Homo sapiens: one gene and its partners. The gene in region 1 interacts genetically with each later gene. Each region holds a gene or a part of one and is shown in the gene's direction. Other genes may lie near its edges. The genes, in order: TUBGCP4, CTNNBL1 and TCOF1.

What was found.
Region 2: changes in TUBGCP4 (region 1) and CTNNBL1 together harm fitness less than expected from each alone (positive genetic interaction), as found in Homo sapiens cells (one large-scale study listed by BioGRID).
Region 3: changes in TUBGCP4 (region 1) and TCOF1 together harm fitness less than expected from each alone (positive genetic interaction), as found in Homo sapiens cells (one large-scale study listed by BioGRID).

The regions. Positions count from the first base shown.
Region 1 is NC_000015.10:43,405,449-43,409,100, forward strand, and holds part of TUBGCP4 (gamma-tubulin complex component 4), read left to right. Parts: 3' UTR 1-1,934; coding exon of another isoform or gene 1,935-2,122; 3' UTR 2,123-2,486; coding exon of another isoform or gene 2,487-2,640; 3' UTR 2,641-3,448; coding exon of another isoform or gene 3,449-3,648; 3' UTR 3,649-3,652. Other genes in the region: TP53BP1 (TP53-binding protein 1), read right to left, coding at 1,935-2,122, 2,495-2,640, 3,449-3,648. UniProt on the Homo sapiens protein: Component of the gamma-tubulin ring complex (gTuRC) which mediates microtubule nucleation.
Region 2 is NC_000020.11:37,735,443-37,739,094, forward strand, and holds part of CTNNBL1 (beta-catenin-like protein 1), read left to right. Parts: intron 1-1,935; coding exon 1,936-2,042; intron 2,043-3,652. UniProt on the Homo sapiens protein: Component of the PRP19-CDC5L complex that forms an integral part of the spliceosome and is required for activating pre-mRNA splicing.
Region 3 is NC_000005.10:150,378,059-150,381,710, forward strand, and holds part of TCOF1 (treacle protein), read left to right. Parts: intron 1-846; coding exon 847-984; intron 985-1,170; coding exon 1,171-1,350; intron 1,351-1,473; coding exon 1,474-1,674; intron 1,675-3,652.

The DNA.
Region 1 (3,652 bases):
TTGAGAACATTTGTTGGATATGTTCATTTATTCAATAGTCATTTATTGAGCACCTACTACGTACCTTGGTACTGTTCAAGCTGTGGGAGATACAGCGGTAAACAAACAATATAGAGCAGAAAGTTAAATATTTTATGGTTCATATGTGAAAAAGTAATTATGTTTATAAATAGACTAACTGCTGGATGTTACCACCAAGTAAGAAAGCAACAGGTAAGATAGGCTTTCTCTCTCCCTATACCAAGTAATTTATACCTACACAGATTGGGCAATTCTAGCTAATGAAAATATACTTAAAAGTATTTCTTAGGCCGGGCATGGTGGCTCACACCTGTAATCCCAGCACTTTGGGAGGCCGAGGCGGGCGGATCACCTGAAGTCAGGAGTTTGAGACCAGCCTGACCAACATGATGAAACCTCGATTCTACTAAAAATACAAAAATTAGCCAGGTGTGGTGGCATGTGCCTGTAATCCCAGCTACTCAGGAGGCTGAGACAGGAGAATTGCTTGAACCTGGGAAGCAGACGCTGCAGTGAGCTGAGATTGTGCCATTGCATTCCAGCCCGGGCAACAAGAGCGAAATTCCGTCTCAAAAAAAAAAAAAAAAAAAAAAAAAGTATTATTCTCCAAGAAAAAGGTCCTTAAGAAAAAATTGAGATCAAGTTGTTAGATTTTTAAATACTGAAGATTGCAGGCCCAATTACCCATCTTACACAAACCATAGGGGTTGAAGTTATCTTAATATGGCCCAGCCATCACTGGTAATCAATATTCATATCAGTGTAAGTAAAAAGAAATATTCACTGAACAACGCCCTCCAAACTGAAAAAGAATGCAGTGTTCTGGCATCAGGTTATAGTCACTGCATCTGGTTTTCATCACTACATATTCTACACACACTGGGAAGCTCTGACAACTTATTCCCTGCTATTATCAACTAAAGATCACCCTTTCTACTGCTGTCTCTGGAGCAGGAGCTGGCAAACTATGGCCTGCTGTCTGTTTTTGTACAGTTTTACTGAAACACAGCCATGCCCATTTGTTTACTCATTGTCTATGGTTGCTTTCATGCCCTCACAGCAAAGGCGAGTAGTTGTGATGGATCAAATGGCCCACAAAGCCTGAAATATTTACTCTTTGACCCTTTACAGAAAAAAACCTTGTTGACCCCTGCTTTAGAGAATGAGAAGCCATGCAGGGATCAGTGATGCCAGAGGAAGGGAAGGAACTGCTTCCAGCTATTGTGACAATAATAATAATAATAATATTGGGTCTTTGACTAGAACGTGTAACATTTCCAGGTGTTCTCACTTGTGCTTCCCATGTTTATCTTACGGAAGGTCATTCCATCAAGCTTATGGTCACTGTCCCTTCATGGCAGTTGGTCCTTTCGTTCTCCCTTTAGCTCTAAGAGTTGGGGAGTACCCACAGGTGAGCTGTGATCTCAGCTCAGAGAGAGAGCATGAGGTCTTTTTTAACTGTCAGGAAACAGAGCTGTGCCCAATTCCACTCAACTTTTGGCACAACTGTTAATCTGGGCCTTCACCTACCTTAAACTGAGTTTCTGCAAGCATAGCATTTTAGACACCCTGGAATAACCTTTTGGGAATGATGCCACAGAATAAAGTTCACTCTTAACTTTTCAATTTCCTTGGCCAGCTGTCCTCCGTAAGTGAATAAGCCTGTTGAAAGACTCAGAGAAAGTACTATGTCTTGTCATTTGTTCTGAGATTAAGCTCAAAAAAACAGATGAAGAAATCCCAGTTACTACAACCAAAGAGATTCAACATTTATTTTATCATAAAAGTTCAGCAAATAAAACTATATACAAGATCCATGCAAGGAATCCAGTTACACACAAGACACATTTAAAACCTGGTTAAAACACAATCTCCACGATAGCAGGGAATAAAACCAGTAAGACCAAGTATCTTTAGTGAGAAACATAATCGTGTTTATATTTTGGATGCTGCTTGAATCCAATTCTCTCCCCAACAATGAGGCACTGGATCACCCACTCTTGTGACACCACAGGCAGCTGCAATGCTTCAGCACACTTCAGCACCGAGGCTGGGCATGAGGGGTCCGTCACCACCACATCAAATACCCCTAAAGCAATATCTGCAAGGAGCAAGGGAAAGTGAAGAAGGAAAGGACACTCAACTTAGCCCTCCATTAGAAAGAGAGATTTGATTCTAACCAATACATCCCACTCTGCACAAACCAAAGCCCTATTATGTCAAACACACTGCTACTGATCATGACCAAAGGCAGAGTTATAATCACTATGTGCTGACCTTGTAGAAATATTTAACAAATATACGTCCAGTGCTTCACTTATGTTGACTCACCTCTTGAAGGTGGTACTTTTCTTCTCTAAGAAACATGGATACGGTCAACCTATTAGGCCTGAGCCTTGGACCACAAGGCCTAACACCTACAGGTCTAAGGAGATCCCTGGAACAAAGACACTACACACACTCTTTCAGGTACCTTTGTTATGGGCACTTGAATGGTGCTGCTTCACAGAGGCTGCACCACCAGTCATGAGGATCTCAGACCAGAGCTCCAGGAAGTTCTGCTGTTGGTCTGATACCAAGAGTACCTTCAGATTCTGGAAAGGATTTTCACGGGGTTGCCTATGAAGGAGACAGGAAAGGACCTTAGCATGACAAGTAATATCCAACAAACTGCCTTTCTGCAAAGGGACTCATGTACATCTGAATGCTTTCAAAAATAAATGCCCCATCAGACATAGTGTCTCAAGCCTGTAATCCCAGCACTTTGGGAGGCTGTCGTGGTTGGATCTCTTGGGCCTGGGAGTTCGAGACCAGCCTGGGCAATGTGGTGAGACCCCATCTCTACAAAAGACAACAAAAAAATTAGCTGGGTGTGGTGGCGAGTGCCTGTAGTCCCAGCAGCTTGGGAGGCTGAGGTAGGGGGATCACTTCAGCCTGGGAGGTTGAGGCTGCAGTAAGTCGTCACTGCGCCACTGTACTCCAGCCTAGGTGACAGAGCAAGACTTCATCTTAAAAAACTAAGCCCTATATTAGGGTCCCCCTTCTCTTCCTTCTTTCTATGAATGATCTGTATTCCTTGCATTCCTGGCTTTCTAATTTCCATGTTTGTTCTGGGGCTGAGAATAATCCAAATCATGCTCCTGAGCCTATATATTTTTAATGCTTGCTTAAAACTTAGTTCTCTGACTTTACAGGTTGAGAATATTGAACCTATATACAAATCTTCACACATTTGCAAAAGGTTCCTAGCCAATGTAACCTAGGGAAATAAACTAGATAAACTCCTGAAGTCATTTCAAACCCACTCAAATTTATCCCACAGACATTCCAATTTCTAGAAAGCTTTACTCTCTCACCTAGATTCTCTTCCCTCCAAAGCTTGCTGTCCTCCTGCCTATACAATTCTGGATGGGCTTCAAATACTTACCAGTCCAGAATTCTTTGCTCCTCAAGGCTGTACCCAGCTGGCAACAGATAATTACGGTAGTTCTGGAGCTGGTTGGCATGGCAACTATCATGGACCCAGACATGAGACACACAAGGAATCCCACTGGCAAGGCACAGGAAGTACTTCCGGGTTCGACAATGCTGATCCGCAATTAGAAGACACTGGTAAGCTGTGTTACACTGC
Region 2 (3,652 bases), on another chromosome or scaffold:
GTTCAGGAAAGACTTAGGAGATAGAATTAGCTGGACTTGATGAAGCTTTGAGAAATATATTCAGCAAAGTAACATTGTCCCATGGCTAGTAAGTAGTGAAGCTAGGCTCTGAGTCTTGACTGAGCCAGGACTCTGACTTGTTTTTACTGTGTCAGGGAACCTGTCTTTAAGCTGTAGACCCTGGGGAGGAGGTAGGGGTTCAATAGAGAACCTTGGGATCTAGGAGTCATTGGTATAATCTAATAAATGTGTCATGCTGAAAATGAATTTATGGGTAGCTCCCACTTAAAACCCCATATGTGGAAATAGAAATTTAATAATAGAATAATAGCTAACATTTTTGAGTACTTATAAAATTATGGGATGATTCAGTGCTTTCCAAAAGGATCTATTTCAGGTTCTCTTAATAGCAGTTTCTTTATTGCTTTTAGGTGTGAGTTATGGTCAATGACTACAAAGCTGTGAAGCTTTGAGTTGGGATAGTATGAAGAGAAGCAGGGTGCATTGCAGCACATTAATTTAAACTGGAAGGAAACTGAAGATAAAACGTGTGAAATTTCAGTGTAGATTTTTTGGAGAAAAAATGATTTAGTTTTCAAATATTCATTTTATTTGCTTTCATAGGTATTATTCCAATGTATGAAGCCAGAAAATTCTGTACAGTCTACTAGCTTTTTTTTGCATTCTCTAGGCAAGGTTACTAAATTCTTGATGCTACTTCAGGGTTCAAAGTACCTGTCTGAATTCCTTCTCAGCATCTAGTAAGTACCAGGCAAAGTAATATATAAGAAATGCTAAGCAGTGACTATAGCTAATTAACAACCGTTCTTAGTTTACGCACTGTGGAAAAACAGGCAGTAGGTTGGATTTGGCTCATGGGCTGCAGTTTGCCAACTTCTGCTGTAGGAAAAGATTAAGGGTCACTGTCACTGACTCAGAGTTTGACCTTAAACAATTCTTTTAAACCTGTCAGTCTTATCTTACATGTATAGCAAAGGATGACAAGGTAAATGTATAATAATATTATCTAATATTGTTGCTTACTCTCTGCCATACAGTGTGCTCAAGAAATATTTGTTGAATGAGTGAGTCTTTAACAACTTTTCTTTTTTTTTTGAGACAGAGTCTCCCTCTCTCACCCAGGCCGGAGTGCAGCGGCACAGTCTCGGCTCACTGCAACCTCTGCTTCCCAGGTTCAAGTGATTCTCATGCCTCAACCTCCCGAGTAGCTGGGACTACAGGCATGTGCCTGTATTTTTAGTAGAGATGGGGTTTTGCCATGTTGGCCAGGCTGGTCTTGAACTCCTGACCTCAAGTGATCTGCCCACCTTGGACTCCTGAAGTGCTGAAGTGCCCAGTCTTTAACACCTCAAACCGAATTTTCTGTGTTACAGATAGTGGGCATTGTGTGAGACACCCAATGTGATATACCCGAAAAGAAGCATGTGATTACAGGCCCTTACTCCTCATTGTAATTAGAGAGATAAAGTGTGTACTGTGGCCGGGCACAGTGGCTCACACCTGTAATCCCAGCACTTTGGGAGGCCAAGGTGGGCAGATCACGAGGTCAGGAGATCGAGACCATCCTGGCTAACACGAAGAAACCCTGTCTCTACTAAAAATACAAAAAAATTAGCCGGGCATGGGGGCATGTGCCTGTAGTCCCAGCTACTCGGTAAGCTGAGGCAGGAGAATCGCTTGAACCTGAGAGGCAGAGATTGCAGTGAGCTGAGATCATACCACTGTACTCCAGCCTGGGCGACAGAGCAAGACTCCATCTCAAAAAACAAAACAAAACAAAAAAAGTGTACTGTACATTGAACCCAGAAAGGTCAATGGCAGAGTGAGGTGGGGTATAAGAGCCACAGGAAAGTAGTGACAATGAATGTGAAACCCCTGTGGACTGAAGTTTTTGCATTTGTCTCTTTGTACCAGGAGGAGCCATTGGATGAAAGCTCAGTGAAGAAAATGATCCTCACATTTGAAAAGAGATCATATAAAAACCAAGAATTGCGGATTAAGTTTCCAGACAATCCAGAGAAGTAAGGTTCTGTTCCACTGATACCATGTCTCCTCTGTGGCGTTTCGTTGGCTAATTTTGTTTTGATTTTGGTTTGTTTTGGCTTTTGTGATTTGGGCCAGGAATCCCAGGATGACCCCCATGTTTGGGAATTCACTAGAAGGACTCCCAGGACTCAAAGTCAGTGATACTCAGGGCTGTGGTTTATTACACAGGGCACACAACAGGATCAGCAAGAGAAAAAGACACATCAGGTGGCATCTGGAGAAATTCAGATACAGGCTTCCTATGTTTTCTCCTTCCCAGTGGGTGGGATTATACAAACATGCTTCTTTCTTCAGCAATGAAATGCATCAACATGTGTGCAGTGATGCTGTCCAGGGAAGCCCATTTCAGACTCTGAGTTCAGGGTTTTTATGGAGGACTGGTCATGTAGGCATTCTCTGCCTGTAATAACAATAACAACCAAAATTGTAGGCTCCTGGAAGGAAAGCAGCTGTTCAGTGCCCCGGGCTGACAAAGCAGCAACCTTATCACTTAGGGAACATTTCAAAAGCCAAATTCCTGGCTGCCAGCCTAGGGCCAGCCTTGTAAGCTAGCCCTTTTCAAGATCAGCCCCGCAGTTAACATATTAACTCTCCTGCATTATTCTTTTCAGTGCCCAAAGAAGACTGATCGTGCCTGCCGTTAGTGATAGCTTTACTGTGGAGATCATTTCAGAGGCTCTGAAGTTAGACAGATATTGGTGTGATACACACATCCCTTTGAATAAGTTACTTCCCCTTTCTTAGCCTTGGGTGTCTCATCTGTATAAGGAAATAATGCCTTCCTCACAGGGTTGTATGAAGATTAAAGGAGAATAATGTAAGTGTTTAGCTTAGTACCTGGCACATAGTAGGTGCCCATGAGATGATAGTTAACGTGAGTTTTACTACACTGGCACCTTGGTGCACTATGAAGTGCTATGTGAGGAATCTGGCATCTTTCAGTCAGTCTTGAATCCTAACCAAGGGGACTTTCACATTTATACGATTTTAATGTTCTAAACCTCTCTTTCTTTCCCTATCTTTGTCCCTCCCAGGACATACAATTTTAATGAATCTTAATATGCCCAAGGCCCCCAGGCAATTAACAATTGAGTAGTACAGGCTTTGCACTCAAGTTTTTAGGTTACTAGGGAGACTGACTATAAAGGCAAGGTAGAAGGAAACAGACACTTTAAAAGAGATATAATAGGAGAAGAAACAGTAAATACCAAGTTGGGGGCTATTGAGGGTGTCACAGAAAAGATAGTAGTTGAGCTGGGCCTTGAAGATTCATTTTTATTAGGCGGAAAAGAACACAGGAAGGCATGCCAGGCAATATGAGGAGCATGAACAAAGGCACAGAGGTGTCAGCGGGCACAGAGTCTTCATGGCAACCTAGAGAGGCCAGCGTGGTCAACTATGTTGTCCCTGTGCTGTGGATGAGAAGGCAGAGTGGGGAGAATGTGGTTACTGGGCCTAGGGCCACAGCCCTCTTTGATAGTAGGAGTAGCTATTAATAGATCAGGGCCCAGCTTATCCAGCATTAGAGTCCTATCAGGTTTTGTACTGATCTCCACCATACAGGAGCACTGTGTGTGTGTGTGTG
Region 3 (3,652 bases), on another chromosome or scaffold:
ATGAGCACCTCGGCCTGAGTCATACTTGGTCCACACTGTAGGGAATCTTCTTGAAGTCCTGATTCTTCACCTCATTTGACCTCATGTGTTTGAGGAATGCTGGGGGATGGGGTTGTTTTCTGACACTGACCAGATGCCATCCCTGAGTGAGGCAGGGGCCTTGAGATGCTGCCAGAGTCCTCATTCTGTTTCACATTAGGCTTGCTGTCACTCCTGTTAAGGATCTCACTCTGGGAATTTCCCTTTTTTTTTGTTCTCCTTCTATTTGTTGGAATCCCTGACAGGCCTTTTGGGGGTTCTCTGGATATCGGTTAAGGCTAGATTAAGCTGAAGAAAACCTTAAACAACAAGTATCTTGTTCTGCCGTGGCTGCTTGAGCTCCAGCTCTGACCTCAGCATTCCATCTAGCCTGGAGGAGGAAGAGACATGTTTCTGACCTTTTATGGCACTCAACTTACATCCTATGAGCCAGAATTTAATGACATTGCCACCTAGCTGAAAGGGAGCCTGGAAAACATCTGTTTTAGGTAGTCTTGTGCTTAGCTAATGCTAAGGAAGGCACGCACAATGAGTTTGAGTGTTTATTATGTTCCAGACATCATGTTAAACTCTGAATCTCCTATTTAGTCTTCATCATAACCCGTAGGTGGGCCTTATTATTATCTCCATTTGATAGAGGACTGAACTGAGGCCCAGTGAGATCAAGTGATGAGCTCAGGTTCACACGCCTATTGCATGGAGGAGCCAGAATCCAGACTCGGGCTCCAGCTCCAGAGTCTGTATTCTTGGCTAGCTGCTTTACTCAATCTCACCTTCTCCCTCCTTAATTCCCTTTTCTCCACTCAGGTGAAAACCTCAGTAAAGAAAACCCAGGCCAAAGCCAACCCAGCTGCCGCCAGAGCACCTTCAGCAAAAGGGACAATTTCAGCCCCTGGAAAAGTTGTCACTGCAGCTGCTCAAGCCAAGCAGAGGTCTCCATCCAAGGCAAGTGGGGCCAGAAGCCACAGGAGGTGTGGAGGGTTGGGGTAGAGAGGAGGACCAGTCACTGAGCCCAGCCAGGAGAAGGTGCGTGCATGGGCAGGCCACCCACCCAGAGTTGTGCCATAGTGGGGAGTGGGACCTGAAAGGAATCACTTTTGCCTCCAATACTATTATCCCCCTGCAATTCAGGTGAAGCCACCAGTGAGAAACCCCCAGAACAGTACCGTCTTGGCGAGGGGCCCAGCATCTGTGCCATCTGTGGGGAAGGCCGTGGCTACAGCAGCTCAGGCCCAGACAGGGCCAGAGGAGGACTCAGGGAGCAGTGAGGAGGAGTCAGACAGTGAGGAGGAGGCGGAGACGCTGGCTCAGGTGAGGGGGAGGGAATGGAGATCATCCCCTACATGGGATGTAACACCTTTGCCACATCCAGCTCCTGTCTTCTCACACGTCCACCCTCCAGGCTCTCTCCTCTCATCCTGTTTCTCCCTCCAGGTGAAGCCTTCAGGGAAGACCCACCAGATCAGAGCTGCCTTGGCTCCTGCCAAGGAGTCCCCCAGGAAAGGGGCTGCCCCAACACCTCCTGGGAAGACAGGGCCTTCGGCTGCCCAGGCAGGGAAGCAGGATGACTCAGGGAGCAGCAGCGAGGAATCAGACAGTGATGGGGAGGCACCGGCAGCTGTGACCTCTGCCCAGGTAAGACTTGCCAGGCCTCTGAGCCACCAACACTCACTCCTCAGAACGGGGGTATAGGGCTGGGCGTGGTGGCTCACACCTGTAATCCTAGCACTTTGGGAGGCCGAGGCAGATGTATCACTTGAGGTCAGGGGTTCAAGACCAGCCTGGCCAACATGGTGAAACCCCGTCTCTACTAAAAATATAAAAATTAGCTGGGCATGGTGGCGGGTGCCTGTAATCCCAGCTACTCGGGAGGCTGAGGCAGGAGAATCCCTAGAACCTGGGAGGCGGAGGCTGCAGCAAGCCAAGATCATGCCACTGCACTCCAGCCTGGGTGATGAGAGTGAGACTGTCTCAAAAAAAAAAAAAAAGAAAAAAAAGAAAAGTGAAAAACCAGGGTTTAGGGCCAGGTAAGGAAAAGAAAGGAAGGCCAGGTTAAGGCTTAAGGCTCCAGTTCCACCATGCCCTCCTCCGTCTGCTGTCATCCACATCTCCTTAGGTAAAACCTGCTACTAAAACCCCCCAAACGAAGACTTCCGTAGCTAAAAGTGTCCTGGGTCTATATCTAGGTCGAGGTCTCCACCAGCTCTATAAGCTAGGCCAGTATTTCCCACCAAGGCATATGAGACCAAGAATCTACATGTTAGTTATTGTGCATACGTTAACGTTATACAAAATGACTCTCCCTGTCAGAGTCCCAGGGAAGCTTGGAGTGTGGCACAGGTCCCCCTGAGGTCCTGGAGAGATGGAGGAAGTCTCATCCTGCACCTTGGCCCGGAGCCTCACATAGGCAGGCGCATCTTCTCAGGCAGGGCTTGTCTAGCTTAGTGCAAAGCCTGGACCCTGGAGAGTGGGGAGAAAGAAAATCTGAACAATTCCCTCTGTCTGCTTGCAGAAGATAGCAGGGCTTGCTACATCCTACAGAAGTGTAGGATGACAAACTCCAGCACTGCCAAGGCACAGGTGTGTGATGGAAATGACTGATGCAGGCCTGGCAGGAATGATAGATGTCGGCCGGGTGCGGTGGCTCAAGCCTGTAATCCCAGCACTTTGGGAGGCCAAGGCGGGCGGATCATGAGGTCAGGAGTTCGAGACCAGCCTGGCCAACATGGTGAAACCCTGTCTCTACTAAAAAAATACAAAAATTAGCCAGGCGTGATGGCAGGCGTCTGTAGTCCCAGCTACTCGGGAGGCTGAGGCAGGAGAATCGCTTGAACCCGGGAAGCAGAGGTTGCAGTGAGCCAAGATCATGCCATTGCTTTGCACTCCAGTCTGGGCAACAGAGTGAGACTCTGTCACAAAAATAAAAAAAAGAGATGATAAATGTCAGGAGAGATGGTAGATAGTGGTAGCAAGTAGGGCAGACCGGAGAGCCCTTGCCCCATCCAGAGGGGCAGTTCTTATCAGCTTCAGCCAGTCATGACTGTGGAGATGGACCTTCTGTGTGGCCAGGTCTTCCATTTCTTAAGGGAAGCTGGAAGTCCCTGTGCCAGGCCAAGCTCCATAACCTCTTAGATTTGTTTTCTTCATGAGTAAAACAAGCACTGAGATGAATGCTCCCTAGCCCTAACCTCTGCCTTTGATACACCAAACCAACAATTACTGGGGGTGAAAGACATTGGCCCCACCCTCAAGGAGCTCACAGTCTGTGGGGCAAGACAGGTGACCGGATTATCGCAGACTATGCTAGTGGTGCTGACAGCTGAAAGAGCAGGTCTCTGAGAGGCCAGAAAAGGAGGAGATGATTGAGCTGAACCTGAAGGATGACCAGGCACAAAAGTGGAGAAGGCCCCTCAGTGTGTGCAGAGGGGCTGGGCATGAAGGCACATGGTCACTGAAGGCAGCTGTCCTGCAGGCCGTAGGCCCTCCCAGGTGCTTGTTACTGGTAGATTTATGGAGGACCTAAATGCCAGACTAAGACATAGGCCCCGGCCATATTTTGGGCTGTGTAGTTTTTTTGTTTTTAAGTTTTCAATGAGTTCTTAGTCAGAATGGC